Linked DNA regions of Homo sapiens. The protein of the gene in region 3 purifies or fractionates together with the protein of the main gene of each other region. This does not show direct contact. Each region holds a gene or a part of one and is shown on either strand. Other genes may lie near its edges. The genes, in order: ACTR10, RCCD1, MAPK8IP3 and WDR54.

Region 1 (7,897 bases), on a different chromosome or scaffold from region 3:
TTTGTATTTTTAGTTGAGACAGGGTTTCACCATGTTGTCCAGGCTGGTCTCAAACTCCTGATCTCAGGTGATCCACCCGCCTCAGCCACCCAAAGTGTTGGGATTACAGGCGTGAGCCACCACGGCTGGCCTTTAGTACTGTTTTAATCAATCTTACTTGAAGTCATATTTTAAAACATTTTATAGTATGGCATTTATTTTGCTAATATTTTTTTTTAAATACCTTAGGCATCCCAGCTCTTTTTATCACACTAGGAATTATACATCTTGGACCAGTTTCTCCAGCAAATCCACACCTGCAAATAAATGGAAAATTGAAACAACTTATAGTATTCTTTTAAATATTTGTCACAGAAACTAATTTTCTCTGTATTTGTTTCAAAACAATGGCCACAATAACATTTGAAAATACCTGATGTATTTTAAGGGATCAAAAAAAATCACTCCACAAAACTAATAATACTATTTATTAATGCTTGTGTATTAACAGAAAAAAATTCTATGAAATTCGTGATGCTGAAAAAAACAAATGTATTATTTTAGGGCAGCATTTACTTTTTTTTTTTTGAGATGGAGTCTGGCTCTGTCACCCAGGCTGGAGTGCAGTGGCGCGATCTCGGCTCACTGCAAGCTCCGCCTCCCGGGTTCACGCCATTCTCCTGCCTCAGGCTCCTGAGTAGCTGGGACTACAGGTGCCGGCCACCACGCAGGGCTAATTTTTTTTTTTTTTTTTAGTAGAGACGAGGTTTCACCGTGTTAGCCAGGATAGTCTCGATCTCCTGACCTCGTGACCCGCCCGCGTCGGCCTCCCAAAGTGCTGGTATTACAGGCGTGGGCCACCGCGCCTGGCCAACTTTTTTCCTAGTTGTTAATTTTAGCAGAATTTAGGCAAGACATATCTACAACTCTGAATCTGTACTACATTATGTGACTTCATTCATATAATTCATCTGTATCACTCATAATTCCATCATTCTAATATTGTTAGCTTCCATATTGGTGTATTCACTTTCAGTCTACTTCTTATGATTATGCATATATATTTGACATAGTTTTAATCACACTTCATACATAATTAACTCATACAGTAAGCTTCTGCCCATATTAACATAATCTTCATTGCTATCACTTTTTTTTTTTTTTTTTTTGAGGCAGGGTCTCGCTCTGTCGCCCAGGCTGGAGTGCAGTGGCACAAACTCAGATCACTGCAGCCTCCGCTTCCCAGGCTCAAGCGATCCTCCCCCCTTGGCCTCCCAAAGTGCTAGGATTTCGGGCACGACACTACCGCCGGCTAAATTTTGTATTTTGTGTAGAGCTGGGTTTCCCCATGTTGCCCAGGCTGGTCTTGAACTACTGGGCTCAAGTGGTCAGCCCGCCTCAGCTTTCCAAACTGCTGGAATTACAGTATTATTTTTAAAACCACATATTTCATTATTTTAAAAACGATGCTCTTTTCTTGAGTATTTAGGTATTTCCATTTTTGTTTCATGTTAGTAAAACAAAAATTTGCTAAAAACGTTGCTAAAAATGATCATCATACTAGTTTAGTCTTAACATCCTGTCTTCTTGTCCTGTCTAGTTTTTGATACTGCTCTCCTCGTATTCCCAAATAATTCTCTCCATCTCCTCCTATTCCCGTCTCCATGTTTACTTGCATCAGTGCTCCTCAAACATCTCAGAATGCAAGCCATTAGACTTCAATTCCTTTTTTTTACTTCATACATTTATCTTATCATCCTCCTGCTGTCTTTTTCAAATATAGCTTTTTGCTTATTTCTTCCAAGTACAGCCAAAATAATTATCTTTGACTAGAAGCCTCGAACTGTTTATTACGCTTTCAAAATAATTTTAATAAGAAAATATAAATAAGGAAGGGCCTCGCATAGAACAATAAGAGAATGTCATTAACCAAGGACTATGTTTAATCCAATTCTGGAGTTCCTGGGGTCCAATTTTTAAATAGGCTCTTTTAACCACTTAGTCAATAAATAGTTATTAAATACCTACTACACGTCAGGAAGTGCCTAGAGATATAAAAAGATTTTTCAAATGTTTCATTTTCATAAATACATATATGATGTAATTGCCTGTTACTTCCCTCTCTGTTGAGCCCATCACAAGGACTCTTAATCTAGGGTCCCAGGACCACATTGATTGTCTGCCAATTCCCTGAAACTGTGTATAAGTACCTTAAGATTTGTGCATTTGTGGTTTTCATCCAGCCATTAAAGAGATCTATGCCATCCGAAAGGTTGAGAACCTCCTCTCTATTGTTTACAAGTTGGTTTGTTTAAAACATGTCAAATCTAACCTTCGAGTTTAGGGGAGCCAACAAAGGATTTCCAGAATCTTATCTATAGGGTTTCACCTCTTAATGTGCCCAGTCTCCCTAATTCTTGAGCAGCGATAGCCCTGTCTTAAACATCTTTCCATTTTCAGCACCAAAATAAACTCCGTTCAATATTTTATGATGAAATTCGTCATCGAGCATTTACATTCGGTTGGCTGCCTTCCTCAACTGAGGAGCCCAGGGTAAGCGGGGTCTAGGTCACGGTTGTCATCCCCTACACAGATGATCCCAAAGGGTTTGTTGGGTTTGGGGTGATGACAAGGGGCGGCGACGAGGGCAATTCAACAGAAGCTTTCTGGGCCTCTCTGGGAGTCAGACCCCGATCCTCGGATTCGCATCGCCCAGGGAGGAAATAATAAGAGCTGTTATTTGCAAGGGCGCTGGTTGAAGAAAAGGGGAGGCCCGGAGCTGCCCAGCGAGTCGGCGATGAGGACCCAGGCAGTGCCTGGGGCTCTGCCACCCGCCCTCCCCTCGGGTCGAACACAGCTGGCGTCACGGCCACTCACTTGGTAAAGGCCTCTCCCAGGTCGATCACGACCGCCGTCTTCTCCCCGCCGCTCCCCAGGCCCTCGTAGAGCGGCATGGTAGTAAGGCAGACTGAGAGAAGAGGGTCGCAGTCTCCGCGGCCAACAAGTCTCGGCGCTCGCGGGGCGGGGCCGGGGCTCCGGCGCTCGGGCGTCGGCGACGGCGGGGGCCTCGCGCGGCCGCGGCGCGCCGGGCCCGGGCTGTCCCAGGCTGTGCCTCATTCCGCGTTGGACCCACCCTTGCAGGTGCTGCCGTCGCCAGGACTAGGGGAAAAGAGGCGCTGGCGGGCGCGAATCCGAGTGCGGGGGCGCGGAGGCCGCGGCGATCAGGCGCGCCGGTCGCCCTGAGGGGGCGGAGCCGGCCTCCCTATCCTTCCCTCCCACCACGCCCCAAAGCCGCACCCACGCGCGGCTGTGAAGAGGTTCGGTCTCAGCTCACTGTGAAGAGGTCACTGAGGACCTGGCTGCCAAGGGGCAGCCGAGAGACGACGCAATTCCGAACCTTTGATTCATGCTCTTGGGGGGCAGAAGATGCTGAGACCCTATTCTGTGCTAGGCGTTTTGCCTAATATTTAATCTTCTCAAGAAATAACAAGAATATGTGTTTTCTTATCTGTGGGGACCGACGCTCAGAGAGATTAACTTTCCCAATGTCCCACGGCAGAGCCAGGAACAAACCCACAGACTTCCTAATTGCAAAGCCTATGCTAATGATGCTTTAGAGAATAATACGTACAGACAATACTTTAGTTAGTAGTCTTTCTGAAAGTTTTTATTTTACTCCAGAATTAAGCAGCTAGAGTAGCGTCTGTGAATCTTGAATCTGTCCATAGAGGAGCGGTCGGGATGGTTTAATAGAAGAAACATTGAAGCAAAGGCCCCTATTAGGTTGGTGCAAAAGTAATTGCTGTTTTTGCCACTACTTTTAACATTTACATTACTGTTTACATCTTTGTCACTTCACAGCTTTCTGTGAAAATATTTTTTTCCTGCAAATATTAGCTCTAACTGTATCTATGCATAGGAGTGGAAAAGACTGTCAAAGGAGAGGCTGTGCAATAAGAAAAGAGGTTCAAGGGTAAATCGGTGAGGACTAGCAACATTTAGCTGGTGTACTGGGTTGAATGATGCCCCCCCCCCCAAAATTCTTGTCCACTGGGAACCTCAGAATGTGACCCTATTTGGAAATAGAGTCTTGGCAGATGTAATCAAGTTAAGATGAGGTTATACTGTATTAAGATGTCCCAACTGTCCGAGCGCAGGATCACACCTGTAATCCCAGCACTTTGGGAGGCCGAAGCGGGAGGATCCCTTGAGCCCAAGAAGTCTAAAGCGGCAGTGAGTCGGGATTGTGCCGCTGCACTCCAGCCTGGGCAACAACAAGAGTGAGAGCCTGTCTCTCAAAAAAAAAAAAAAAAAAAAAAAAGGCCCTACTCTAATGGTTGGTAACTAGAGTTAGCGGGGTAGTTGGGGATAAGCTATTTCCATAACAAAAACTAAGGCTGTAACAATGCAGAAATTTGGAATGTGATATTAGTAAAATTCATGTTTAAGTCCAAATTACTGATCAATGATCCTCCTTGAAAGCAAATTCCTGGAGACAGGAGAATGAAGTTGGAGTTGTGACGGGGAAGAAAACTTTAAGAAACGTGGGAAGAGATTAAATTTTTTGCTTAATAGAGTCAGATTATTTGAATAGGACCCCTTACTTGAGTTCAGATTCTGTTTCTGCCACTTTCTGTCAAGTCCCTAATACCTCTGATCGTCCACTTCCTTATCTGTAAACTGTTCTGCTGCTTCACAAGGTATTTGTAAGGATCAATTTGAAATTATGTTTCTGAAACTATTGAAATGATGAAGTTTGTTATTACCTATTCTATGTTTTCCATGACAGCTCACCAGCTGTATTTGTTAGCTAGGGACTGCCGTAACAAAGTACCACAAACGGTGGTTCAAGGAAACAAAAAATTTATTCTTTCACACTTCTGGAGGTGAGAAGTCAGAAATCAAGGTGTCAGCAAGAGCAAGGTCATGCCCTCTTTGAAGGCTCTTGAGGAGGATCCTTTCTTGTCTTTTTTTTTTTTTCTTTTTTTGAGATGGAGTCTCGCTCTGTCACCCAGGTTCGATCTCAGCTCACTGCAGCCTCCGCCCCACCAGGTTCAAGTGATTCTTCTGCCTCAGCCTCTGGAGCAGCCGGGATTACAGGCACCTGCCACCACGCCCAACTATTTTTTTTTGTTTGTTTTGGATTTTTAGTAAAGATAGGGTTTCACCATGTTGGCCAGGCTGGTCTCGAACTCCTAACCTCAGGTGATCTGCCTGCCTTGGCCTCTCGAAGTGCTGGGATTACACCGCGCCCAGCTTTTTTTTTTTTTTTTTTTTTTTTTAACAGAGTCTCGTTCTGTCATCCAGGCTGGAGTGCAGTGGTGCAACCTTGGCTCACTGAACCCCAGACTGGGCTCAAGCAATTCTCCTGCCTCACCTTCCCAAGTAGCTGGGACTGCAGGCATGTGCCACCTTGCGTGGCTAATTTTAACATCTTTTGTAGAGATGGGTTTCACCGTGTTGCCCAGGCTGGTCTTAAACTACTGAGCTCCGGTGATCCGCCTTCCTAAGCCTCCCAAAGTGCTGAGATAACAGGCATGAGCCACCGTGCCTGGCCTTCTTTCTTGCCTTTTCCTAGCTTCTGGTGGTTGCTGGCAATCTTTGATGTGCCTTTGCTTGTAGATACATAACTCCAATCTCTGCCTCTGTCATCACTTGGCCTTCTTCGCTGTGTCTGCATTTTTCACATTATGTACTCCTCCCTGTGTCTTCACATCACTTTCCTTCTGTGTGTGTCTCTGTGTCCAGATTTCCCTCCTTTTTTCTTAATTGTTTTCTTTTTTATTTTTTCTGTATTCGGCTGAACAAATTTCCCTCTTCTTGTTTATTTTTATTTTTATTTTTTTTGAGACGGAGTTTCACTCTTGTCGCCCAGGCTGGAGTGCAGTGGCGCGATCTCAGCTCACTGCAACCTCTGCCACCTAGGTTCAAGCAATTCTCCTGCCTCAGCCTCCCAAGTAGCTGGGATTACAGGCACCTGCCACCATGCCTGGCTAATTTTTTGTATTTTTAGTAGAGATGGGATTTTGCCATGTTGGCCAGGCTGGTCTCGACTCCTGACTTCAAGTGACCCGCCCGCCTCGGCCTCCCAAAGTGCTGGGATTACAGGCATGAGCCTCTGTGCCCGGCCTCCCTCTTCTTCTGAGGATATCAGTTACTGGCTCAGGGTCCATCTTAACCCAGTATGACTTCATCTTAACTTGATTACATTTGCAAAGGATCTAATTCCAAATATAGTCACATTCTAAGATTTCTGTTCACACGAATTTTGGGGAGGACACTATTCAACCCAGTACACAACCTAAATGTTGTTGTTCTCCATGGTTCTGCTCTTGAACCTCTTTTCTTATTGTACACCCTCTCCTTTGCCAATCTCTTCCACTCCCATAGATACAGCTAGAGATAATATTTGTTGAGTTCTATTTGCTAGCTCTCCTTGCTATATATGATCCCATTTATTCCTCACAGCAACTTTATGAGTTAAGTGTTATTGTTACTAGAAAGGGGTCTCAATCCAGACCCCAAAAGTGTTCTTAGACCTCGCACAAGAAATAGTTCGGGGCAAGTCCATAGAGTAAAATGAAAACAAGTTTATTAAGAAAGTAAAGGAATAAAAGAATGGCTACTCATAGGCAGAGCAGCAGCGTGAGCTGCTTAACTGCTTATACTTATCATTACTTCTTGATTATATGCTAAACAAGGGGTGGATTATTCATGGATTTTCTGGGAAAGGGTTGAGCAATTCCTGGAACTGAGGGTTTCTCCCCCTTTTAGACTACATAGGGTAACTTCCTGATGTTGCCATGGCATTTGTAACTGTTGTGGCACTGGTGGGAATGTCTTTTCAGGTGCCTTGACATTATATTCTTCATGTTTCTTTTGTTTGGGATTAAGTGAACTTGGACCTGTGGTTTTATAGTTTTCATCAAATTTGGAATATTTTGACCTTTGTTTCTTCAAGTAATTTTTCTATACTGACTCTTCTCCTTTGGGTAGTCCAAGTACATATGTTATTAGGTGGTTTAAAGCTTTCTCGTAGCTCACTGACTCTTTGTTCTTTTTTCTTTTTCTCACTTATATTTTTTCCTCTGTGTTTCTTTTTGTATAGTTTCTACTGTTTTGTCTTCATGTCTATTGATCTTCTCTTTTGCAGCATTTAATCTGCTATTAATCCCATCCAGTGTATTTTTCACCTCAAAATTGTATCTTTAACTTCTAGAAGTTCAATTTAGGTCTTTTTCTTTGTATCTTTTTTTTTTCTAGACAGAGTTTTGCTCTGTCACCCAGGCTGGAGTGTAGTGGTGTGATCTCCCCATTGCAACTTCTGCCTCCTGAGCTCAAGTGATCTTTCCACCTCAGCCACCCAAATAGCTGGGACTACAGGCACATACCACCATGCCCAGCTCTTTTTTGTTTGTTTGTTTTGGAGAGACAGGATTTTGCCATGTTGCCTAGGCTGGTCTCGAGCTTCTGGGCTCAAGCAATCCACCCATCTCAGCCTCCCAAAGTGCCGGGGTTACAGGTGTAATCTGCGCCCAGACACTCTTTGTATCTTCTATGTCTTTCCTGAAACATGCTTGTGTTTTCCTCTACCTTCTTGAATGTATGACTATAAATATAATTATTTTAATGTTCTTGTCTACTAATTCTTTTTTTTTTTTTTTTTTTTTTTGAGATGGAGTCTTCCTCTGTCTTCTAGGCTGGAGTGCAGTGGCACAATCTTGGCTTACTTCAACCTCCGCCTCCCTGGTTCAAGTGATTCTCCAGCCTCAGTCTCCTGAGTAGCTGGGATTACAGACATGAGCCACTATGGCTGGCTAATTTTTTGTATTTTTAGTGTAGACGGGGTTCACCATGTTAGCCAGGCTGGTCTCAAACTCCTGACCTCAGGTGATCCACTCGCCTCGGCCTCCCAAAG
Region 2 (7,852 bases), on a different chromosome or scaffold from region 3:
GGAGTCAAGCCTGGGGAGAGGGAGGAAGGTGAGGGTGGCACGGTCAGGGCTGGGGAGCCCGATGGTCGGGGTCTTACTCCCAGGGATGTCCTGAGCAGTGACGGGCTTGTTCCTACAGGCGCTGATCCCGCTGGCCCTGGAAGGCACGGACGTGGGGCAGACAAAGGCAGCCCAGGCCCTTGCCAAGCTCACCATCACCTCCAACCCGGAGATGACCTTCCCTGGCGAGCGGGTACGTGTCTTCCTGCCCCGGCCTTTCCACTCCCTCTGTCCCTGATGGCCTGTGGGCTGGGCTGTAGCTCCCCTTTGGGACCAGCAGGAAGTTTCAGCTTTGTCAAGGCCTGGGGCAGGGAGGACAGCCTGAGACAGCAGTACTCTCTTGGGGGTGGGCTTCTCCCTGCAGGGTTGGTGGGGCTTGTGGGGGCTGCGGCAAGTACCCCTGACAGGTGGGGTGCACATTGCAGATCTATGAGGTGGTCCGGCCCCTCGTCTCCCTGTTGCACCTCAACTGCTCAGGCCTGCAGAACTTCGAGGCGCTCATGGCCCTAACAAACCTGGCTGGGATCAGCGAGAGGCTCCGGTAAGGTCCCTTGGGATTGCGGGGCCTGGACCAGGCATCGGGATTCGGAATATCCCCCACAGCAGTTTACACATTGGGAAACACTCCTTGGTCATGGGCTTCTGTGAGCCTCACAGTGACTGCTCCGCATCATTAGAGAGGAGGCGACAGGCCAAGAGGCAGCACGGCACGGCAGACTCTAGAGTCAGACTGCCTCGCTTCCCTGATTGCAAATGGGCAACCTCAAGCAAGTTACTTAACTGCTCTGTCTCAGTTTCTCCCTCTGTGAAATGGGATGATTATAGTACCTACCTCATGGCATAGTGATGAGGAGAATAAAATGAGAAAATACACCTAAAAGTACTTACTACATGGGTACCTGGCCCCTAGCATTGTGCCATATCAGTATATTTTAGTTTTTTTTTTTCTTTGAGACGGAGTCTTGCTCTGTCACCCAGCCTAGAGGGCAGTGGCATGATCTCAGCTCACCGCAACCTCTGCCTCCCAGGTTCAAGCGATTCTCCTGCCTCAGCCTCCTGAGTAGCTGGGATTATAGGCACGTGCTACCGCGCCTGGCTAATTTTTGTATTTTTGTAGAGATGGCGCTTTACCATGTTGGTCAGGCTGGTCTAGATCTCCTGACCTCGTGATCCGCCCACCTCAGCCTCCCAAAGTGCTGGGATTACAGGTGTGAGCCACTGCAGCTGGCCAGCATGTTTTAGTTTTATTACTAACTGTGACTTTGAACATATTACTCATTACTTAGCCCGTTTCCTATTCTGCAAAACAGTAGTGATGATGATCACACTTGCACCTTTAGTATAGGGCCATGGTGAGAATTAAGTAAGATGATCCAGGTGCCTGGTCAGGGTAAATACTCAAATGAGGCCGGGCGTGGTGGCTCACACCTGTAATCCTGGCAATTTGGGAGGATGAGGCAGGAGGATCACTGGAGCCCAGAAGTTCAGGCCAGCCTGAGCAGTGTAGCAATACCTCGTCCCTATTTAAAAAAGAAATTAAAGAGAATATCAGGAAGAATAGCTAATGCATGCTGGGCTTAATACCTGGGTGATGGGATGATCTGTGCGGTAAACCACAACGGCACATGGTTACCTGTGTAACAAACCTGCACGTCCTGCACATGTACCCCTGAACTTAACAGTTGGAAAAAAAATTTGCAAGGTGTGGTGGCGTGCACCTGTAGTCCCAGCTACTCGAGAGGCTGAGGCAGGAGGATCACTTGAGCCTGGGGGGGTCAAGGCTACAGCAGTGAGCTGTGATCATGCCACTTTACTCCAGCCTAGGTGACAGAGTGAGATCCTGCCTCAAAAAAACACAGAAACAAAAACCCTCAAATGTTAGGTGTTAGCCTCACCATCACGACCACCCTGGTCTTCTACATCCTAATTTTGAGCATTTCCCACAATCCTATGCTATTTCCTAGGCCTGGTTAGAAGGCTAAGAAGCACTGTAGTTCATACCTGGTGCAAGAGGGTCCTTGGACATTGCCAAGGGAAATCCTCAGCCCAGGACTTGATTGCATGAGGGTGTGGGTGCAGGGGTGGAGCAGATGTAGAAACTCTGATGATGCTGCCGGTGTTAGTCTGTTCTTGCATTGCTGTAAAGGAATACCTGAGACTGGGTAATTTATAAAGAAAAGAGATTTAATTGCTTCCTGGCTCTACAGGCTGTGTAAGCATGGCATTGGCATTTGCTCAGCTTCTGGGGAGGCCTCAGAGAGCTTTTACTCATAGTAGAAGGCAAAGCAGGAGCAGGCACATCACATGGTGAAAGTAGGAGCAAGAGACAGTCGGGGGAGGTGCCACACACTTTTTTTTTTTTTGAAATGGAGTCTCCCTCTGTTGCCCAGGCTGGAGTGCAGTGGCGCAATCTTGGCTCACTGCAACCTTCACCTCCTGGGTTCAATCGCTTCTCCTGCCTCAGCCTCCCTGAGTAGCTGGGACTACAGGCGCGCACCAGCATACCCAGCTAATTTTTTTTTGTCTTTTTAGTAGAGACAAGGTTTCACCATGTTGGCCAGGCTGGTCTCGAACTCTTGACCTCAAGTCATCTGCCTGCCTCGGCCTTCCAGAGTGCTGGGATTACAGGCGTGAGCCTCCACGCCCGGCCGAGATGCCACGCACTTTTAAATAACCAGATCTCACGAGAACTTACTATCACGAGGATAGCACCAAGCCATGAGGGACCCATCCCATGACCCAGTCACCTCCCACCAGGCCCTACCTCCAACATTGGGGATTATAGTTCAACATGAGGGTTAGAAGGGAAAACATCCAAACCGTATCCCTGCTGCTTCCTCCTGTGGCCCTGCAGGCAGAAGATCCTGAAGGAGAAGGCTGTGCCCATGATAGAAGGCTACATGTTTGAGGAGCATGAGATGATCCGCCGGGCAGCCACGGAGTGCATGTGTAACTTGGCCATGAGCAAGGAGGTGAGGGTTGGTCTGGGTGCTCATGACAGGCGGGGATGCAGAGGTACCTGTGCCCTGGCTGGGCTTTACACCCAACTGACTTGGTCCACTCCTCACATCTGGCCACAGGTGCAGGACCTCTTCGAAGCCCAGGGCAATGACCGACTGAAGCTGCTGGTGCTGTACAGTGGAGAGGATGATGAGCTGCTACAGCGGGCAGCTGCCGGGGGCTTGGCCATGCTTACCTCCATGCGGCCCACGCTCTGCAGCCGCATTCCCCAAGTGGTCAGTGCCTCTTCTCAGTGGGGGAGGAGGGACGGACCAGGAACTCCCAGCAGCAGCTGAAGGGGGCAGTCCTAGGGTGTGTGGGTGTGTCCCTTGCCAAGGTTGAGCCTGTTGCCCAGGGGTCATATCTACCCTGTTTTTCTCACAGACCACACACTGGCTGGAGATCCTGCAGGCCCTGCTTCTGAGCTCCAACCAGGAGCTGCAGCACCGGGGTGCTGTGGTGGTGCTGAACATGGTGGAGGCCTCGAGGGAGATTGCCAGCACCCTGATGGAGAGTGAGATGATGGAGATCTTGTCAGTGCTAGCTAAGGGTGACCACAGCCCTGTCACAAGGGCTGCTGCAGCCTGCCTGGACAAAGCAGTGGAATATGGGCTTATCCAACCCAACCAAGATGGAGAGTGAGGGGGTTGTCCCTGGGCCCAAGGCTCATGCACACGCTACCTATTGTGGCACGGAGAGTAAGGACGGAAGCAGCTTTGGCTGGTGGTGGCTGGCATGCCCAATACTCTTGCCCATCCTCGCTTGCTGCCCTAGGATGTCCTCTGTTCTGAGTCAGCGGCCACGTTCAGTCACACAGCCCTGCTTGGCCAGCACTGCCTGCAGCCTCACTCAGAGGGGCCCTTTTTCTGTACTACTGTAGTCAGCTGGGAATGGGGAAGGTGCATCCCAACACAGCCTGTGGATCCTGGGGCATCTGGAAGGGCGCACACATCAGCAGCCTCACCAGCTGTGAGCCTGCTATCAGGCCTGCCCCTCCAATAAAAGTGTGTAGAACTCCACTGTGTGCCCTGTCCTTGGGCAGGGAGGGCTGCTGTGAGTGGGAGTCTCTGAGTGGGTGAGTGTGGGTGAGTATGGGTGTGAGCTGGGCGTGGGTGAGTGTGCAACGGAGCTTCACAGTGGCAGACCCACCTCCATGGAAGGAATCCAATGGATTCCCCAACCAGGGCCCACTGAGTTGCTTCTTAATCCTACTGGAGGGACAAAGGGTAAGCCTAGGAAGCTAATCAATAAGAAACTCACCAGGTGCGGTGCCTCAAGCTTGTAATCCCAGCGCTTTGGGAGGCTGAGGCAGGTGGATCACTTGAAGTCAGGGGTTCGAGACCAGCCTGGGCAACAAGCAAAACTCTTTCTCTATAAAAATACCAAAAAAAAAAAAAAAAAAAAAAAAAGAGCAGAGTGTGGCGGCATGCACCTGTAATCCCAGCTACTCGGTAGGCGAAGGTTGCAGTGAGCCCAGAGCGCAGCCTCCCAAAGTGTCGCCTGGGCGACACAGCGAGACCCTATCTCAAAAAATATTAAACTATCCCAAGAAATAAGTCGTTTAGGGTAGAGACTCCCATATGCTGGGCCTTCAGTACGTTTGTCTTTATATTGGGAGTCCTCTGTGGCCTCCGCTGAGGGCGCTGGGGCGGGGGTTGGGGTTGGTGGCCAGCTGAGCCTGGTTGAAGGGCGGCTTGGGCCCCGCCCACCACCCCAGCACGTTCGAGGAGGGCTAAGCCCAGCGTGAGGCTCGTTGGCTCGACAGAGGCACGTGACGGGTCCTGAGCCAATCCGTGGAAGGTAAAAGCTGCTTCCTGTTGGGGCATGAGTCCGGCGCGTGTCGGGTTTTGAGCTGCCGCGGTCCCGGGACTGAGGTGGGTGGCGGGGTCCGCCCGTCTTGGGCGTCACTCCTCGCCAAACCTTTAGCTCAAGTCTTAATGAATGTCCTCTCTGTGGTTCTAATCCGAGCTCCAGCCCCACGGGTTCCTGCAGGGGCGGGACCACCTGGCCCAACCTCTGCCTTGGTCCAACGCCCCCGGTTTCCTCCAGGGCCTTGGTCCAACGCCCCTCGGAGGTTTCAGCCCATTTCACAGACCGGGCCGCAGGGCCCCGGCGTAGGCCTCGGGACCGGAGAGGCCCTCAAGGGGAGTTGAACAGGGCTGCGGCCGCCGCGCCCCGGGCGGCGACGTCACCGCCCTTGCTGGTGATTGGCCGCCTCGCGCCGCGCGCCCTTCAAACCTTTTCTCCCCGTGGCTGTCGGCGCCCGCTGGGCGGGAGGCCTTTCCGGAGGCGGCCGCTCTGCGCCTCGGCGTTTCCTCCAAGGCTGCCCACCAGAAGGACCTGCCCGAGAGGGTAGAGGGCATAGGGTCAAGATCAAGGTCAGAGGCCCCCTTGGGTTGGGAGAGGACACGGAAGGGGTTAGGAGCCCAGGAACTGGGGTCTCAGGAGAGACCCAGGATCTGACTTAAGAGGCCTGAAAATGCCCATGCAATTCTGCTTCAGCCCGGGTGCAGCGGCTCACGCCTGTAATCCCAACGCTTTGGGAGGCCGAGGCGGGCGGATCACTCGAGCCCAGGAATTTGAGACCAGCCTGGGCAGCATAGCGAGACCCCTGTCTCTATTATATTAAAAAAAAAAAAAAACAAACCCGCTCCAGCCGAATCTGCTTGAAGTTGGCGTTGCTGTTGTAACCACCAGACTGTTTGTCTCCCCATTTAACGGTTAGCTCCTTGGGAGCAGACAGCTGTCCTCACTGGCAGAGGAGGAGCGCTCAGTAAATGCTCGCTGGACGAATAAATGGCTAGATAAGGTACAGTTGAAATTCTGTCTGTATAAGTTTCTCAAAACCAGTAAGATGTCCAGGGATAATTTTTTTGTCAACACTAAATACTGGATTCAGTAAGCTAATACTGTGTGTTTATCATGGCATGTACTCGCACCAAACCCTTTATTTGCATTTATTACAATTCTGTGAGGAAGGTTCAAACAGCACCGCCCCCACCTCCCTTTGTAAACTGAAGAAACGCAGTTGGACTCAGGTGGATTGGCTGCGGTCCCAAGGCCCCGCTGAGTTGCAGAGGCACTGCCTCCCAAACGCTCTTCTGCGTTCCGCTGTGGGGAGAGGGGCAGAGCACTGTGTGTGGAGTTGGTGGGACCTGATTTCAGCGCTCTGCCCCTCTCTGTCTGGCTGTATGAGTGTGTAAGGGTTACTTTGTCTCAGAATCTCCTCTGTAAAACGACCATTTTGGTTCCCAAGATTACATGGGATAAAGTGCCAGATGCTGGGAAGCTGCGGGACGGGGTGGGGGTGTCGGGGGCGCTCGGATCCTAGTCCAATGCCTAAAGGACAGGCCACTTCGTACCCACTTTGTGGCACGCTGAGCTTGAGCCAAAAGGGAGGACAGGGAAAGTGCCTCTAAATATTTGAGCATCTTTGTAAATCCGGTAGGGCATTAGTCAGGGCGCCTGCTCAGCGAACCTTCGTGGCACGGACTCTGCCTTTGTGGTCGGGAGAATGATAGTTTCTCCATTTTACAGATAAGGCAGCTCCAGCCCCTGGAAGGCCAGAGACTTGCCAGTGTCCCACTAGCGGGCTCTTCGCAAGAATCCCCCCGGGCCCGCCGCAGCCAGGCGGCGGCCGGCAGAGGGCGCTGCTCGGGCATGGCGGAGGAGCGGCCGGGGGCCTGGTTCGGCTTCGGTTTCTGCGGCTTCGGGCAGGAGCTGGGCTCCGGACGCGGGCGCCAGGTGCACAGCCCCAGTCCGCTGCGGGCGGGCGTCGACATCTGCCGCGTGAGCGCGAGCTGGAGCTACACCGCTTTCGTGACCCGTGAGCACTCCCCGCCCCGTCCCCACTTATTCCAGCCGCGCTCCCCAGTCGCCTCCCCGCACCGCTGTGGCCAGTCCAGTTTGTCTCCCCCGTTCAGGCCGCCAGCCCCACATTCTGGGTTGGTCCCCAATTCGACCCCTTCCCAGGAACACCCCGCTCCCCCCATCCCCGCCGCCTCCATTCTGGCCACCCTGCTCCAATCCGCCCCGCAGGTGGAGGCCGCTTGGAGCTGTCGGGCTCAGCCAGCGGCGCGGCGGGCCGCTGCAAGGACGCGTGGGCCTCGGAGGGGCTCCTCGCGGTGCTGCGCGCCGGGCCGGGGCCGGAGGCGTTACTGCAGGTCTGGGCGGCCGAATCGGCGCTGCGTGGGGAGCCATTGTGGGCCCAGAATGTGGTGCCCGAGGCCGAAGGGGAAGACGATCCGGCCGGTGAGGCCCAGGCTGGGAGGCTACCCCTGCTGCCCTGCGCCCGTGCCTACGTGAGCCCGCGGGCGCCCTTCTACCGGCCTCTGGCTCCGGAGCTGCGGGCACGCCAGCTGGAGCTGGGCGCCGAGCACGCGTTGCTGCTGGACGCTGCTGGCCAGGTGTTCTCCTGGGGCGGGGGCAGGTGAGCGGAGGCGGGGGCAGGTGAGGGCTGCTGATTGGAGAAGCAAGCGGAGCGGGACCCCTTAATGCGACTGTAGCTGACGACGGTCTCCCTTGCTCAGGCATGGACAGCTGGGCCATGGGACCCTGGAGGCAGAGCTGGAGCCACGGCTGTTGGAGGCGTTGCAGGGCCTAGTCATGGCTGAGGTGGCCGCGGGGGGCTGGCATTCTGTGTGTGTGAGTGGTGAGTGACTTAGTGCTTCTCCAGACGAGCTCATGATCTTGTGCAAACCTTCCTCCTCGTTTTCCAGTTTGGGTGGGGGCCTACCCAGGCCTCCTTCCAAATTCATCCATCCATCGCCCAGTCAGTTATGACTCCTAAATGCCTCTCACCCTCGGCCTCCTC
Region 3 (5,676 bases):
CGGGGACGGTCCCAGCCCCGTCCGGCCTCCCCCTGTTCAGCCTGCGTGGTACCCGTGCCGGAGGTCTCTTTCCCACGCTCACACGCGCCTCTTCCGCGCAGGAACCTGATTCACGGCAGCGACTCGGTGGAGAGTGCCCGCCGCGAGATCGCTCTCTGGTTCCGCGCAGACGAGCTCCTCTGCTGGGAGGACAGCGCTGGGCACTGGCTGTATGAGTAGCCCGGCAGATGCGCGTCACAGAGGCTCTCACACTCCAGCCTCCTCCAGGGCCCAGGTGGGCGGGCTTCTGGCCCCACCCCACAGCGCTTGGAGCATCCCTTTGGACGGGCTGCTGAACATCCACCTGTCTGGACGTTGCATGGAGGGTGGCGCAGGCCTCTCCAATCCCTGGCGTACAGGGTTTCCTGCCCGAGGAGCTGCTCCAGGAGCCTGCGCGGCTCGCCTGGAAACGTGCCAGGACACTGTCCTGGTGCCCAGCCCAACGTGGTCCAACGTTTTTTTATAATAAAGTCCTCGTTTTCGTTTCGATTTGGGCCCAGGAACAGGCAGCTACGACGTTAAGACATTTATTACATACAGAGCAGATATGTGGGTTTGCTTGCAGGGCCAAAGCCTGAGGAGAATCGTCACCCCTCCCCCAGCCGCCCCACTGCTCAGCCCGGAGTCACTTCGAGATCCTGGGGGAACAGACGAGGGAGCGGACATACATCACAGTGGAGGTGGCAGGGTGGTGGGGAGAAGCCGGCAGCGCAGCGGCTGCAGCCCTCGGTGGCCAGCGGGGCTTGTGGGGCAGCTCCCCAAGATCTGTGCTTCTCTGGTTGGGGGTGGGTGCGGGGGCTGGGCTGCCCTCATAAGGGCCTCCCAGACAGGAGTGCAGTGGGCCTGGAAGGTAGGAATAGGCCAGAGAGGCCCAGCTGGGCAGGGAGAGCAGTCCAGGGTGGCGTCTGCCCTCTGCGGGCTTGGAGTCGGCTGGGGGCGGCTCCATCCTCAGCCCCACGGGCCTCTGCTTGGTGGCCTCTCTGTTGCTCCCTGGAAGCAGGCCACAGCGGGCAACCCTAGGCACTTAGTAGCGTGTCTGGGAGCTGGGCTCCGTGGAGCCCCGTGCAGGAGGCAGGCCCCGGGAGCACATCATCCCCCATCAACCTGAGGCTGAGCCTGTGTCCTAGGACTGATCCCGGAGAGGCCAGGGGCCTCCCCTTCTTCCTGAGGCCTGGGCCTGCCCTGGCAGCCTGAGAAATCCCACCCTGGGGGCTTCTGGGAGGGACAGGACTCCAGGGCCCACTCCTCCAAGGTGAGTCTTCTGCCCAGGCAGAGCCTGGGGGGACACGGGTCAGAACGGGGCTGGCAAGAGCCTGCCTGCATGGGCAGGATGGGGTAGCAGTCTCTGTTCTCAAGCAGCTGCCCCAGGGAGCCGGGCCTCGTGCTTTTATGCCAGCTCCCTGGGCAGGGGACAGCTGGGGTGGGGACAGACAGGATAGAGGCTTGACGACGGGGAGGCCCCAGAGAAGGCCGGCTGGGGTGCAGGCACCTGGGCAGCCTGAGGCCCACCTCCCTGGGCAAAGGCTAGTGCCTGGCCCAGCTCCCCTAGGCAGAGTGAGGGCCCAGGAGGCAGGGTGGCCCCATGAGCAGCATGCAGAGGTGGGCCCAGGGCAGGCAGCCTCGGCGGCGGGGAGCCCCTGCCTCCTCCAGGGGTGCTGGGGAGTAGGAGGCCCAGGGTAGAGCCAGGACCACCTCGGATTCTGCCTGCGCTGGGCCCAAGGTGCCCTGGACTTGAGGACTCTGGGCTGGAAGCTGGCCAGGAGCTGCCCGGGAAACTGTCCCGAGAGCATCTTCCCCTCGGGTGGAAGTTCCCCTCCCCTCCTCCTCCCAGCTGATCCGCATCCCCGCACTCCCTGCCCGCTGGAGGGGCCAGACTCAGGTGAAAGCTGCAGGTTGAGAGGTTAGAAGAGGGGCGGCGGCGCCTGGCTGGCTACCCCGCGGGCCGGGCGGGGGTCAGGTGGTCGGGGGTCCTATGTACAGGTCGGGCCAGGCAGGGCAGCAGCTTCACTCGGGGGTGTAGGACACCTGCCACACGATGATGTGACTGCGCTCTGCCTTGGACAGCACGGGCTTCACCTGGCTCATGTCCCCTGCGCCCTCCTCCGTCTCGTCGTCCTCTCCGTCTCCTGCGGGCAAAGCAGCAGAGTGACGGCCAGGCTCCCCCCGCGCCCAACCTCAGCCCTGTCCCTGGGCCCCGCTCACCAATGCGGAAGTCGATGTAGCCCTCCCCGCCGCTCAGCACCAGCACGTTCCGCAGCTTCTGGCCCTCGACCTCCGAGGCAGGGGCAGCTGGCCCAGGGCCCTCGGCTGGGCTGTCCAGCACACTCCCATTCAGGGTGGCCAGCACGTTCCCTGGGATGGCAGAAGCGATTCAGGACAGCGGCCTCCTGGGGGAGGCGGCGGCCACTGGCATGCAGGGGATGTGGATGGCAGGAGGGGCCCAGCCTCACCTGGCACCGAGACAAAGAACTTCACGGCATCGCGGTGCCCATGGAAGCATAGCTGGGCCTGGGCCATGGAGCAGTAGGGGATGAAGCTGCTGGCCGCCCTGTCACTGCTGTCATCGCCATACACGTGGATGATGCCCCCGGGACGGGCGCCCTCCCCAGAGGTGGGGGATGTCTTATTGGCTGCAGGGAGAGAACCCAGAGGCGCTGAGCCCGCATACAGGTGGAGAGTGGGAGAGGCTCCCGTGAGGGGACACGAGGTGGCTGGGCTTACCTCGGAGCCCCAGGAGCTGGCCTCGGTGCAGGACCACAGCTGGGGACATGGGAGGAGCATGGGAGAAGAGGAGAGCGGTCAGCGTAGGGGCAGCAAGGCACCCTCCAAGGTGGCCCTGCAGAGCCACCCCGTGAACCCACGTACACCTCTGGCAGCACCACTGCCCCTGCAGGTGTGCAGGCCACTCACTCTCTGTCAGGGGGATGGAGATGACCACTCCGTTGCCGGTGCCCACCCAGAGCCGGCTGCCCGCGACAAGCAGGGCCGTGATGCGTACGAAGGAGAAACCCAGCTTGCCAGTGCCTGTGGGGGAGAGCGGTCAGGGTGGCTGGCCTTGAGCACCCCACCACCCCATCTGGCGTGGCCCCTCACCTAGCATCTTGCTGACGTAGGGCTCAATGTCCACGTCCTGTAGATGCTGGTGCGTGTGTGCATGGTAGAGCCTCAGGGTGGAGTCCAGGCGGATGGACACCCATACGCCATCGCCGATCCACGCCAGCTGCCGCACCTGGCTCTCCCGCCGCGGGTGGGCGTCAAATGACTTCTGTGGAGTCATGGCTGCCCATCAACAGGGCTGGGGAGAGGAGAGGAAGTGGGGAGCCCCAAACCTGCCACAGCTCCAGGGCCACCTGCAGTCCCCTCAGACCTCCCAGCCAGCGCCTGCTTTGCGCCTGTTCGAGCCTGAGTCATAGGTGGTACAGGGGAGATGGGACCCACGTAGGGCCTCGTGGACTTCCGTATGGAAGATGCGGGAGAGCTGCTGGCCAGCAGGAGCCTCTTCCCCTCCCCGGGGCCCTGGCCGGCACTCGCCTCTATCTGCATGGTCTTGGGCTGGATGACGTGCACCTTGTTCTTGTAGCCACACCACACGCGGTCGTACACAACAGCCATGCAGCGGATGGAGTGGTGCGGGTGGCCCAGGTCCATTAGGTGATAGTTGCTCAGATCCCACTGGCCATCTGGAGGGAGCCCCGGACACCTGCTCAGGCCTGGCCAGGCCCCACCTCTGCTCAGGGCATCGGGTTGAGACACCCACTGCCAGACTAAGGAGAGGCCTGGAACCCCGGGAGCCCCTTGGCTAAACAATGCCAGGGCCATCAGCTGCCACCCACACACCCCGTGCTGCCAGGCCCCACCTTCACCACGGTGGAAGATGGCCAGGGTCCCGTCCGCCAGAGCCACCAGCACACGGCCTTTGACATGCCTGAAACAGGAATGCGGTGAGCCTGGTTTGGGCCAGGCTGTGCCAGCCCCCTCCGCCCCGTTCCCCCGCGCCGCCCGGCCCTCGGTCTGGGGTCACCCACACCAGGCTCAGCACAGAATCCTTCAGCTTGATGGAGTGCAGGCACTTCTTCCAGTTGGCCACAGCCGAGTGCACATAGAGCCTAGGGAAGGAAGCGGCGATGGGCGAGGGGCTCACCCAGGACCCTCCCTCCACCTTGCCCCGGGCCCTTCCTACCAGCCGTTCTGGGCTCCCAGCCACATGGTGGGTGCAGCACTGCTGCCTGCTCCCGTGGGGTCCCCGCTGGGCTCTGGCTCTGGCCGTGTGCTGCTGCTGTCAGGCTCTGGCCCGTTCTCGCTGCAGGAAGAACGGTGGCTCCAGGGGGGGCCACGGAGCACGCACCTGCCCCAAGACCCCGAGGCCCTTCCCACCTCTGCAAGCCTTCCCTCTGCTCCTGCCCCAGCCCAAGAGCTCACCTGCCAGGCTGGGGGCCAGAGGACGGGGTCGGGGCTGGGTCAGTGAAGACGTGCTCTGTGAGAGGCCCGGGCCGCAATGTGGCTGTCTCTGGCTCGCTGGGCCCAGGGTCTGGCACCTCCGTGGCCTCTGTGGCCTCCTCTGTGGACTGGGACGGGTTGACCTTCCCGTTGGCGATGGTGGCCACCTCCCCTGTGTTAGGAGAGGTGAGCTTGGGCTGGGCAGAAACGTGGGAATGAGGGGATGGGGGAAACTCGCCCAGGACTCACCCTGCCCCTTGTCTAGCACTGGGGTGTCCCCTCGGGAGGAGCAGTTGCTCCGCGGCACGTTGCAGCGGGTGGCACAGCCCACCAGGGTGATACCGGCCAGCACGCCATCTGCGCCCGGGTCCTCTGGGTTCACGTCGCTGTCCAGGAACATCTCCCCGGGAGGGTAGTCGCTGTCGCTGGCCGCTGGGGAGAGGGACGGCCCGTCAGCCTGTGCGGGGGAACCCACTACTGCAAGGGCGTGCCCAGCACTTACACAGGGGCAGAGGAAGCCGGGGCTGGCCTTCCACTTTCCCAGCAGACCCAGCTTCCACACATGCTCCACCCACAGCCCACCCACGACCCTCTGCCTGGAGGTCTGGGACTCCAGCAAGCCTGCTCTGTTGGGTAGGCCCCTGGGCCAAGGGGAGCTGAGTAGTAAGACTCTGGTTCTGGGAGCAAACAACCTGTGATCCTGTGGCAGACCCTCAGGACCCCAGACGGCCCTGTGGTTTCACACCAGAGACCTGGCAGAGCCCTCGGCACCCCTTCGTCCTCCCAGTGTTGGGGCTGGCCCAGAACATCACCAAGGCTACTGCCCACAGGGGTGACACGAAGCTCCTCACCCACACCCCCATAGCCCCTTCGGCCCAACTGGAGGTTTCACATTCAGCATGAGGAAATGTTTTCCTGTGGTCTCCGAGTGATGCTTCAAGCTGCAGGCCGTGCCCACCCGTCACCCTCTAACCAGGTAAGCGTGGGGTCCTGAGTAGGTAGGGAGAAGAGGCCGAGGCTGCCGCGAGCTTCCTCCCAGAAACAGGGCCCAGGGCCTCACTTGACTGGGTGCTGCCCCTCCCACCGTCCACTGCCACATTCCCGTGTCCACAGGACACCCCGAGAAGGCAGCTGCTGTGTGGCAGGGCTTTTACTTAGCTTGCTAGTAAAAGGGAGTGGCGCCCGAGTGGAAACGCCCAC
Region 4 (7,793 bases), on a different chromosome or scaffold from region 3:
ACCCATCAGAAACCACCCCTACCACCAGGGTTCCCTTGGGAAGCATGAACTGCTTTCCTTGAATTTCTTCATGGAGTCCCATCCCCCAATAACATTAGGAGGGGGTGCATAATTGCCTCACTGGATGGATGATAAAACTGAGGCCACAGTGTCGTGACCTTCTGGAGGTCTCGTAGTGAACCAGTCACAGTCATGACTAGACCCTGGGCCCCTGCACCCCCAACACCAGGCAGCCAACACAACCTATGGGCCTAGCCCTATGCCAGGTACAATGGAGAATATGAATAAGAAAATATACACCCTGTTCTCAAGAGGTTTGCAAATTACTTGGGGAGACAAGAGTTGTCTTTTGAGGGCAGTGCCAATTCAGGTTTCAGCTAAGAGACATCAGTGGGAGCTAGAATATGGGGAAGGCTTCCTGGAGAGGATGGATGGCACTGGAGCTGGGCCTGAATAGGTGGGACTTGCCCTAGAGAAGGAAGCTGCACATTTCAGAGCTGGAAAGTATCTTAGAAACCATTTGTTCCAACTCCTCATTTCACATCAGTATTATAAAGTCTTAATTAACTATAAAATACTACATAAATGTAAAGTATCTCTGGCTTTATCACTGAACCTGGTTGCTGAAGACTAGGAAAATGTAGATTTGCCCAAAGCCATCCACCTGTTTAGTGGCAGAGCCAAGACTCAAAGCCAGGTCCCCTGCCTCCCAGGGTGGGGAAGGCTCCCAGATGGGTAGGGGAAGTCCACTCACCTGTCCCTGGGCAGGCTCGGTGGCAATGTCTGTGATTGGCATCTGGTGCCCAGCCAGCTCCTCGCTCAGTACAATGTTGGGACCCTTTGCTGGGATGTCAAACACCAGCACCCGGCCTGACCACGTTCCTGTATCCAGAACCAGTACTCCAGTGATGACTTCCTGACCCTCCTGGGTCTCCAGCCACCATACTCAACACTTACTCCATCCCAGAAACCTTAGTAACAAAACCCCCTCTCACTGCTCCAACGGCCATGCCCCTTCATTCACTAGCCTTGTCTTATCCCACCCTGACCCTCTGAACCCTTCCATGGTTTACTGGAGTCTCTGATTCCACTCCACTTCCACCCTTCCCTCTAACTTTCCACAATTTCCTCAGGCCCTCATTATTCTCCTGGCCACAGCCCACATGCCCCAGCACCCCTCCATGCCCTGCACTTGGCTCCCTCACCCACACAGATGAAGTGGCCACTGGCAGCAATTCCCCGGGCAAACACAGCCTGTACTGAATATGAAAGGGGAGAATGATCAGAAATATCCCCTCCTGCAGCCCTAGCAAACACTCCCTGCCCCCACCCCACTTGGTCCTGCAGGTACCTGGGGAGGCATCTCCAGAGTCCAGTGCATGCCAGTAGACCATGGTGTAGCCATTGGACTCGTACATCTGGAAGACCGGGGCAAGAACCAGGGGGCATAACCCAACTGACCTCTGCTGAGTACTTCACATATCCGTGTTAGCCTTAGCCCATTTAATCCTCAAAACAAATCTGGGATGTAGGTACTATTTTTATCCTAATTTTTTCAGAGGACAACAGTGAGAGTGAGAAGTTAATAGTGTAAGGACATACAGCTAGTAAAGGGGCAGATACTGGAGGTGGCACTTGGAAACTGGAAAAGATGGAAAGATTGAAGATAAGAAATAGAAAAAGAGTGAGTGGGCCAAGCATGTGAAAAGTCTGGAAGTGTTTAGAGGCAAGTGGGAAAGTCTGGAAGCCTGGCAGGGAAGCTGAGAAGGCTCTGGTGGGGCAAGCAGGAGAGTCCTCTTCTTACCTGTATTCCTCGATGTGAGGTGAGTACCAGCAGCACTCGGAAGGGGAGGACACACCAGTGGACCTGGAGGGAGGTGCATCAGTGTAGGGAGAAAATCAAAGCAGGGAAGATGAGTTTGTTTGTTTTTTTTTTTTTTTTGGGGGACGGAGTCTTGCTCTGTGGCCCAGGCTGGAGTGCAGTGGCGCCATCTCGGCTCACTGCAACCTCAGCCTCCTGGGTTCAAGCGATTCTCCTGCCTCAGCCACCCAAGTAGCTGGGATTACAGGTGCACGCCACCACACCCGGTTAATTTTTTTTGTATTCTTAGTAGAGAAGAGGTTTCACCATGTTGGCCAGGCTGGTCTCGAACTCCTGGCCTCAAGTGCCCGTCTCAGCCTCCCAAAGTGTTGGGATTACAGGCGTGAGCCACCGCGCCCGGCAGGAGAGGGGAGATTCTGAGGTTAGGACATGCCTGGGGAGATTCTGAGGTTAGGACATGCCTGCTCCTGAAGGTTTGGAGAGAAAAGGCTGGGGGTAGGACTGGGTTCAGCAACATCACTCCCAGCTCCATGCCTCACCTGAGTGATAAGTGGGGGACTCACTCCAGCACCCTCCTTAGCGTGGAGCTGGCGCTGGGCCAAGGGCACACCCTCAGGAGCAGCGCTGAGAAGCTGGGCGCTTGGTCCATGAACCACGCCAAAATACGTGAGGTTGCGAGCCGGCAGCTGCAGCACACTGAGGTTGTTGCACAGGGCGGCGGCCGAGCCTCGCAGGGGAATGGAGCGCTCCCAGCGGAACATCCTGTGTGGGGGTGCAGCCGAATCACCAGGCGCGCTACAAACAGACGCAGCGGAGATGCCCGAGGGCGGCTATCATCGAGCATTTCGGAAGATGCCTGAGACTGGGTCATAGGATGGGGTGCCCAGAGGACGGTGATGGGGGAGGGTCTCGAGGAGCAAGACAGGGGAGTCCCAGGGCTGTTTTGGGGCGACGGGGGAATCGCAGAGGAGGAATGGGGATGACACAGGACCACCCGATGGCCCCAAGCCCGCGAGCCAAATAAGTGTGATGAAGCCCCCAAGGCTTTCTCCCTCGGCTCGGATCCCTGAAGCCCCCGGCCTAGATCAGAGGTAACACCTGCAGCCCCAGATCGGCTCGCCTGACTCCTGGTTCGTAGGGTCCCTCCAAATCCGCCGCCACCATAGAGACGACGCACGTACGCACGGCCCTTGGGCGGGGTGAGCGGCCGGAACGTGCCGCGGGCGGCGCGGTTGCCGGGGCAACTGTGGGCGGGGCGAGCGACCCCGAGCCCGTGGTTGCCCAGGCGACTGTTAGGTGGCTTACGCGGCCCGGATGCAGCAGAAACACCAGCGTTGCTGCGACCGCGTTGGCGATGGCGCACGAAGGCTCGGTGAGCTTCAGTTCAGCTGGGGATGCGCCAGAGCCAGGGTCGGCCGTTAAGGTCGGTGTCGGGAACAGTGGGCTGGCTCTGGGCCGCCCAGTGCCCCTACTTGCTCCCGCCCACCGCGCGGGAGTTTAGATGACCAAGGAAGCCACGTCGGTACTCGGGCAGAAAACCTACACCTGCACGGTGCCCACTCAAACGCTTTGTTACACTCAAGCCATGAGGGAAAGGGTCAGTGGGTGGTGTAGAGCCCGAGAACAGGAAGTGGATTTTGAAACAGCTAATGAATGTAGTAAGTCTCTTACATGGTGGTGCGTATTTAAATGGATGAGCATTTAGAGAGGGAAGATAACAGAAAAAATCTATTTCGAGAATTTCAAGAGGAAGAAATATATTAAATAATTCAGAGACTGCACTTGAAAGTCAAATTGTTTAAGAGCCAATCAATTTTAAAATAAAGAAAACGGGGCCGGTCTCAATGGCTCATGCCTGTAATCCCAGCACTTTGAGAGGCTGAGGCGGGAGGATTGCCTGAGCTCAGGAGTTCAAGACCAGCCAGGCCAACATGGCGAGACCCCGTCTCGACTAAAATACAAAAAATTAGCTGGATGTGGTGGCGCGGTGCCTGTAATCCCAGCTACTCGGGAGGCAGAGGCAGGAGAATTGCTTGAACTCGGGAGGCGGAGGTTGCAGTGAGCCGAGATCGCGCCACTGCGCTCTAGCCTGGGTGACAGAGAGAGACTGTCTCAAAAAAAAAAAAAAAAAAAAAAAAAAAAGAAGAAGAAGAAAGAAAACGGATTTGAAGAGCCTTTGTGCAAAAATATCTCTGTCCCTTCTGGTCACCATCACGGGTGTCAGATGCGAGGCTGGGAGGGGAGGTCTAAGGAAACAACTCTCTTTACTCAGTCCAGTCAGCCCTGCTCTAGTCAAGCTTGGCCTGGGCTATGGGCCACTCCTGGTGCTTGCTACAGGGCTGTTCTCACTGGTGGATAGGGTTAATGAGACTTCAGGGATTTTGAGTTCTGCAAGACTTAGGAAACAGCAGATTTGGGGGGATAATGAATTTTAGGAAACAGATATGAGACAAGGTTTTAGCGGGGCAATAGGCAAAGGTTTGGGAAGATCACATTTGGAAGTACATTTTGGAAGGAACCAGGTTCAGGGAGACTGTTGTGGGGAATTGAGGGAGCTCCCAAGAGATTGTTTGTAAACTTTTTATGTCTCTAAAGTGAGTTTTGGGGACTAGTCTTTTTTTTTTTTTAAGTGATTACAAAAGGAAACAAACTCATTGTAGAGAACTTACAAAATAGAAAAGAGCATAGGAAGGAAACGTATCCTCTGTTATCATTTTGAAGTTTTCCTTTTGTTGAACACATAGTGGTTTACATATATGAGATCATAATTGATGTGTAAGTTTGTATCCTGCTTCTTTCAATTAACGTTACATCATAAACATTTGCTTTATGCCATTGCAAATTCTTTCTAAAGATTACCTTTAATGGCTGGGTTGGTGGCTCATGCCTGCAAGGTGGGCAGATCACTTGAGGCCAGTTCAAGACCAGTCTGGCCAACATGGCGAAACCCCATCTCTACTAAAAATAGAAAAAAAATTAGCCAGGCCTGGTGGCAGGCGCCTGTAATCCCAGCTACTCCGGAGGCTGAGGCAGGAGAATTGCTTGAACCTGGGAGGCAGAGGTTGCAGTGAGCCGAGATCTTGCCACTGCACTCCAGCCTGGGTGACAGAGCGAGATTCCGTCTCAAAAACAAAAACAAACAAACAAAAAAAGATTACCTTTAATCATTGCATAATATTTCAGTATATATAGCATGTCAATTATTTATTCTCTTTTTAAAGACATGTTTTCAATATTCTGCTATTATAAAAATACCGCAGAGAATTTGTTGGAGAATATATTTTTATCTTCATTTCAGAAAATGCCTTTTGGTTGTATTTATAGAACTGAAATTGCAGGGTTGAGGAAGTGAAAACATTTTTTAATGTCTTCATGCATACTGTTGCAGCATGGTATCACACTAAACCTTTGCCAATGCTGAGTATTCTTGTTTTTAAAATAATTCCAATTTGATGAACTAGAAATCAGAATGTCAATACTATATTTATTAGTCATCTACAGTCCCTCTCTTGTGAAATGTCATGTCCTTTGCTTATCTTTGGGATCTTAAATGGTTTTTCTTCTTATAGTTTAAATTTTTATTGCAATATAGCCCAAGCTGGACTTGAACTCCTGGGCTCAAGCAATCCCCCTGCCTCAGCCTCCCGAGCAGCTGGTACTGTGGGTGTGCGCCACTGTGCCTGGCCATTTTTCTTCTTCTATTTTTTATTTTATTAGTTTTTTTTTTCTTTTTTGAGACAGAGTCTCGCTCTGTCACCCAGGCTGGAGTTCAGTAGCATGATCTCAGCTCACTGCAAACTCTGCCTCCCGGGTTCAAGTGATTCTCGTGCCTCAGCCTCCCTAGTAGCTGGAATTACAGGCGCCCACCACCATGCCTGGCTAATTTTTGTATTATTAGTAGAGACGGGGTTTCACCATGTTGGCTAGGCTGGTCTCGAACTCCTGACCTCAAATGATCCACCCACCTCGGCCTCCCAAAGTGCTGGGATTACAGGCGTGAGCCACTGCGCCCGGCCATTTTTTTTTTTATATGAGCTTTTAATTTACTCGGGGATATTTATCTTTTTTCATATTTGTTGCAAATGTCTTTGAGAGGCTCTGGAGTCAGACAGACTTGCATGTGAATGCATTCTGACTTCACTACATCCTACTTGTATGATACTGGGTAAATTACCATAAAATGGAGATAAGAATAGTTGGTTAAAAAAAAAAAATGTAGAGAACTTTTTAAGCTCCCCTGAGCCGGGGCTGTGCTCTTCTAAGTGGGACTCCGAGCCTGGGCTATTTCTGGCGCTGGCGCGGCTCCAGGAAGGCATCCGCATTTGCGACCAGGGGCGGCTGCGGTGGAGACTGGCCTGTCCTCAGCGCCCAGCACCGCTGCTCCCGGCAAACCGGAGCATGCACCGCAGGCCAGCGGCCGAGTTCGCCCATCCCAGCCATCACTTTTCCAACTAGTCCTTAGAGAAGGGAAGATGAGCGAGTCGAGCTCGAAGTCCAGCCAGCCCTTGGCCTCCAAGCAGAAAAAGGACGGCACTGAGAAGCGGGGCCGTGGCAGGCCGCGCAAGCAGCCTCCGGTGAGTCCCAGGACAGCGCTGGTAGGGAGTCAGAAGGAGCTCAGCGAAGTGCCAACACCTAAGAGACCTCGGGGCCGACCAAAGGGAAGCAAAAACAAGGGTGCTGCCAAGACCGGGAAAACCACCACAACTCTGGGAAGGAAACCAAGGGGAAGACCCAAAAAACTGGAGAAGGAGGAAGAGAAGGGCATCTCGCAGGAGTCCTCACTGGAGGAGCAGCTTCCTTCTGGGACTGGACAGCTTTGATCTGCTCCCAACCCCCCACCTCCCACCCCCCACCCCTTCCCTACACCCACCATCACCACCGCCTCCAGCCACCACCCTCATCTTCCACCTGCACCTTCACCACCACACTACACAACACACCAGCCGCTGCAGGTCCCTATGGGCTGAGTGGAGAGGACTTTTCCCCTGGCCTCTTCCCATCCCTACCCCCTCCTCCCCCCGTCCACCCACTCATACACATGTGCCCTCCTGGACAAGGCTAATGTCCTGCTTAGCCGCACCCTGCACCTGCTGCGTCCCTGATCCCTTGGTGGTGACATTGCTCTCTGGGCTTTTGGTTTGGGAGCCACTTCTCTGCTCCTCCACTGTTGCCTCTGGCTTCCCATAGAGGGGCCTGGGAGGGTTCCCCTGGTCTTAAAAGGGGCCCAAGCCCCCATTCTGGCACACCCCACTCCACTGTCCTGGCAGCAGCAGGTGTGGCCAATGGAGGGGGGTGCTGGCCCCCAGGATTCCCCCAGCCAAACTGTCTTTGTCACCACGTGAGGCTCACACCTTTCATCCTTCCCCACCTTCCCTAGTCCCTGCACTAGGTTGGACAGCCCCCATTGGCTACAGGAAAGCGGGAGGGGTGTGAGTCCCCTACTCCCTCTTTGCAGTGGCCCCAGCCCCCTTACCGTCTGCCTGGGATCTGAGTACATATTGCAGTGATGGAGATGCAGTCACCTATTGTCCAGGTGAGGCCCATGAGCCCTGTGGCAGCTACCTGAGGTGGGCTGGGGCTGCTCCCCCAACCCTACTTTGCTTCTACCACTTGGCCATTTTCCTCTCCTCAGATGGGGCACCAATAACAAGGAGCTCACCCTTCCCACTCCCAGCCCTCCTGCTCCTGCCACCCCCCCAGGTTCTGGTTCCATTTTTCCTTTGTTCACAAACTACCTCTGGACAGTTGTTTTGTTTTTGGTTCAATGTTCCATTCTTTGACATCTGTCATTGCTGCTGCTAGCAGCGCCAAATGTTCATCCACATTGCCTCCTGTTCTGCCCATGATCCCCTCCCCCAGGTTACTCTTCGTGGAGAAGAGGGGCTGGGGCATGGCAGGCTGGGTGACTGACTACTCCCCTAGGATGCTGCAGCAGAGAGAGCAAGGGGGCCCAAATCCACCATAAAGCATG

Evidence for each region.
Region 1: the proteins of MAPK8IP3 (region 3) and ACTR10 purify together in Homo sapiens (affinity purification with mass spectrometry; 2 studies listed by BioGRID and IntAct, with this or other methods). This does not show direct contact.
Region 2: the proteins of MAPK8IP3 (region 3) and RCCD1 purify together in Homo sapiens (co-immunoprecipitation; 3 studies listed by BioGRID and IntAct, with this or other methods). This does not show direct contact.
Region 4: the proteins of MAPK8IP3 (region 3) and WDR54 purify together in Homo sapiens (affinity purification with mass spectrometry; 2 studies listed by BioGRID and IntAct, with this or other methods). This does not show direct contact.

Annotation. Positions count from the first base shown.
Region 1 is NC_000014.9:58,195,254-58,203,150, reverse strand, and holds the start of ACTR10 (actin-related protein 10), read right to left. Parts: upstream 3,003-7,897; 5' UTR 2,934-3,002; coding exon 2,857-2,933; intron 297-2,856; coding exon 224-296; intron 1-223. UniProt on the Homo sapiens protein: Part of the dynactin complex that activates the molecular motor dynein for ultra-processive transport along microtubules.
Region 2 is NC_000015.10:90,950,036-90,957,887, forward strand, and holds the start of RCCD1 (RCC1 domain-containing protein 1), read left to right. Parts: upstream 1-4,848; 5' UTR 4,849-4,913; exon of another isoform or gene 4,914-5,848; intron 5,849-6,576; 5' UTR 6,577-6,699; coding exon 6,700-6,865; intron 6,866-7,077; coding exon 7,078-7,468; intron 7,469-7,568; coding exon 7,569-7,690; intron 7,691-7,852. Other genes in the region: UNC45A (protein unc-45 homolog A), read left to right, coding at 119-232, 465-580, 2,894-3,011, 3,120-3,275, 3,424-3,681. UniProt on the Homo sapiens protein: Plays a role in transcriptional repression of satellite repeats, possibly by regulating H3K36 methylation levels in centromeric regions together with KDM8.
Region 3 is NC_000016.10:1,765,192-1,770,867, reverse strand, and holds the end of MAPK8IP3 (C-Jun-amino-terminal kinase-interacting protein 3), read right to left. Parts: intron 4,909-5,676; coding exon 4,726-4,908; intron 4,649-4,725; coding exon 4,459-4,648; intron 4,340-4,458; coding exon 4,220-4,339; intron 4,146-4,219; coding exon 4,065-4,145; intron 3,965-4,064; coding exon 3,897-3,964; intron 3,720-3,896; coding exon 3,571-3,719; intron 3,305-3,570; coding exon 3,133-3,304; intron 3,064-3,132; coding exon 2,950-3,063; intron 2,800-2,949; coding exon 2,761-2,799; intron 2,670-2,760; coding exon 2,490-2,669; intron 2,392-2,489; coding exon 2,242-2,391; intron 2,166-2,241; coding exon 2,044-2,165; 3' UTR 517-2,043; downstream 1-516. Other genes in the region: NME3 (nucleoside diphosphate kinase 3), read left to right, coding at 102-219.
Region 4 is NC_000002.12:74,416,944-74,424,736, reverse strand, and holds the start of WDR54 (WD repeat-containing protein 54), read right to left. Parts: upstream 3,008-7,793; 5' UTR 2,987-3,007; coding exon of another isoform or gene 2,921-2,986; intron 2,618-2,920; exon of another isoform or gene 2,585-2,617; coding exon of another isoform or gene 2,584-2,584; coding exon 2,362-2,583; intron 1,868-2,361; coding exon 1,805-1,867; intron 1,419-1,804; coding exon 1,352-1,418; intron 1,260-1,351; coding exon 1,206-1,259; intron 883-1,205; coding exon 755-882; intron 1-754. Other genes in the region: uncharacterized protein C2orf81, read left to right, coding at 3,177-3,194. UniProt on the Homo sapiens protein: Plays a role in the adhesion and fusion of the sperm-oocyte membrane through its interactions with IZUMO1 and IZUMO1R/JUNO.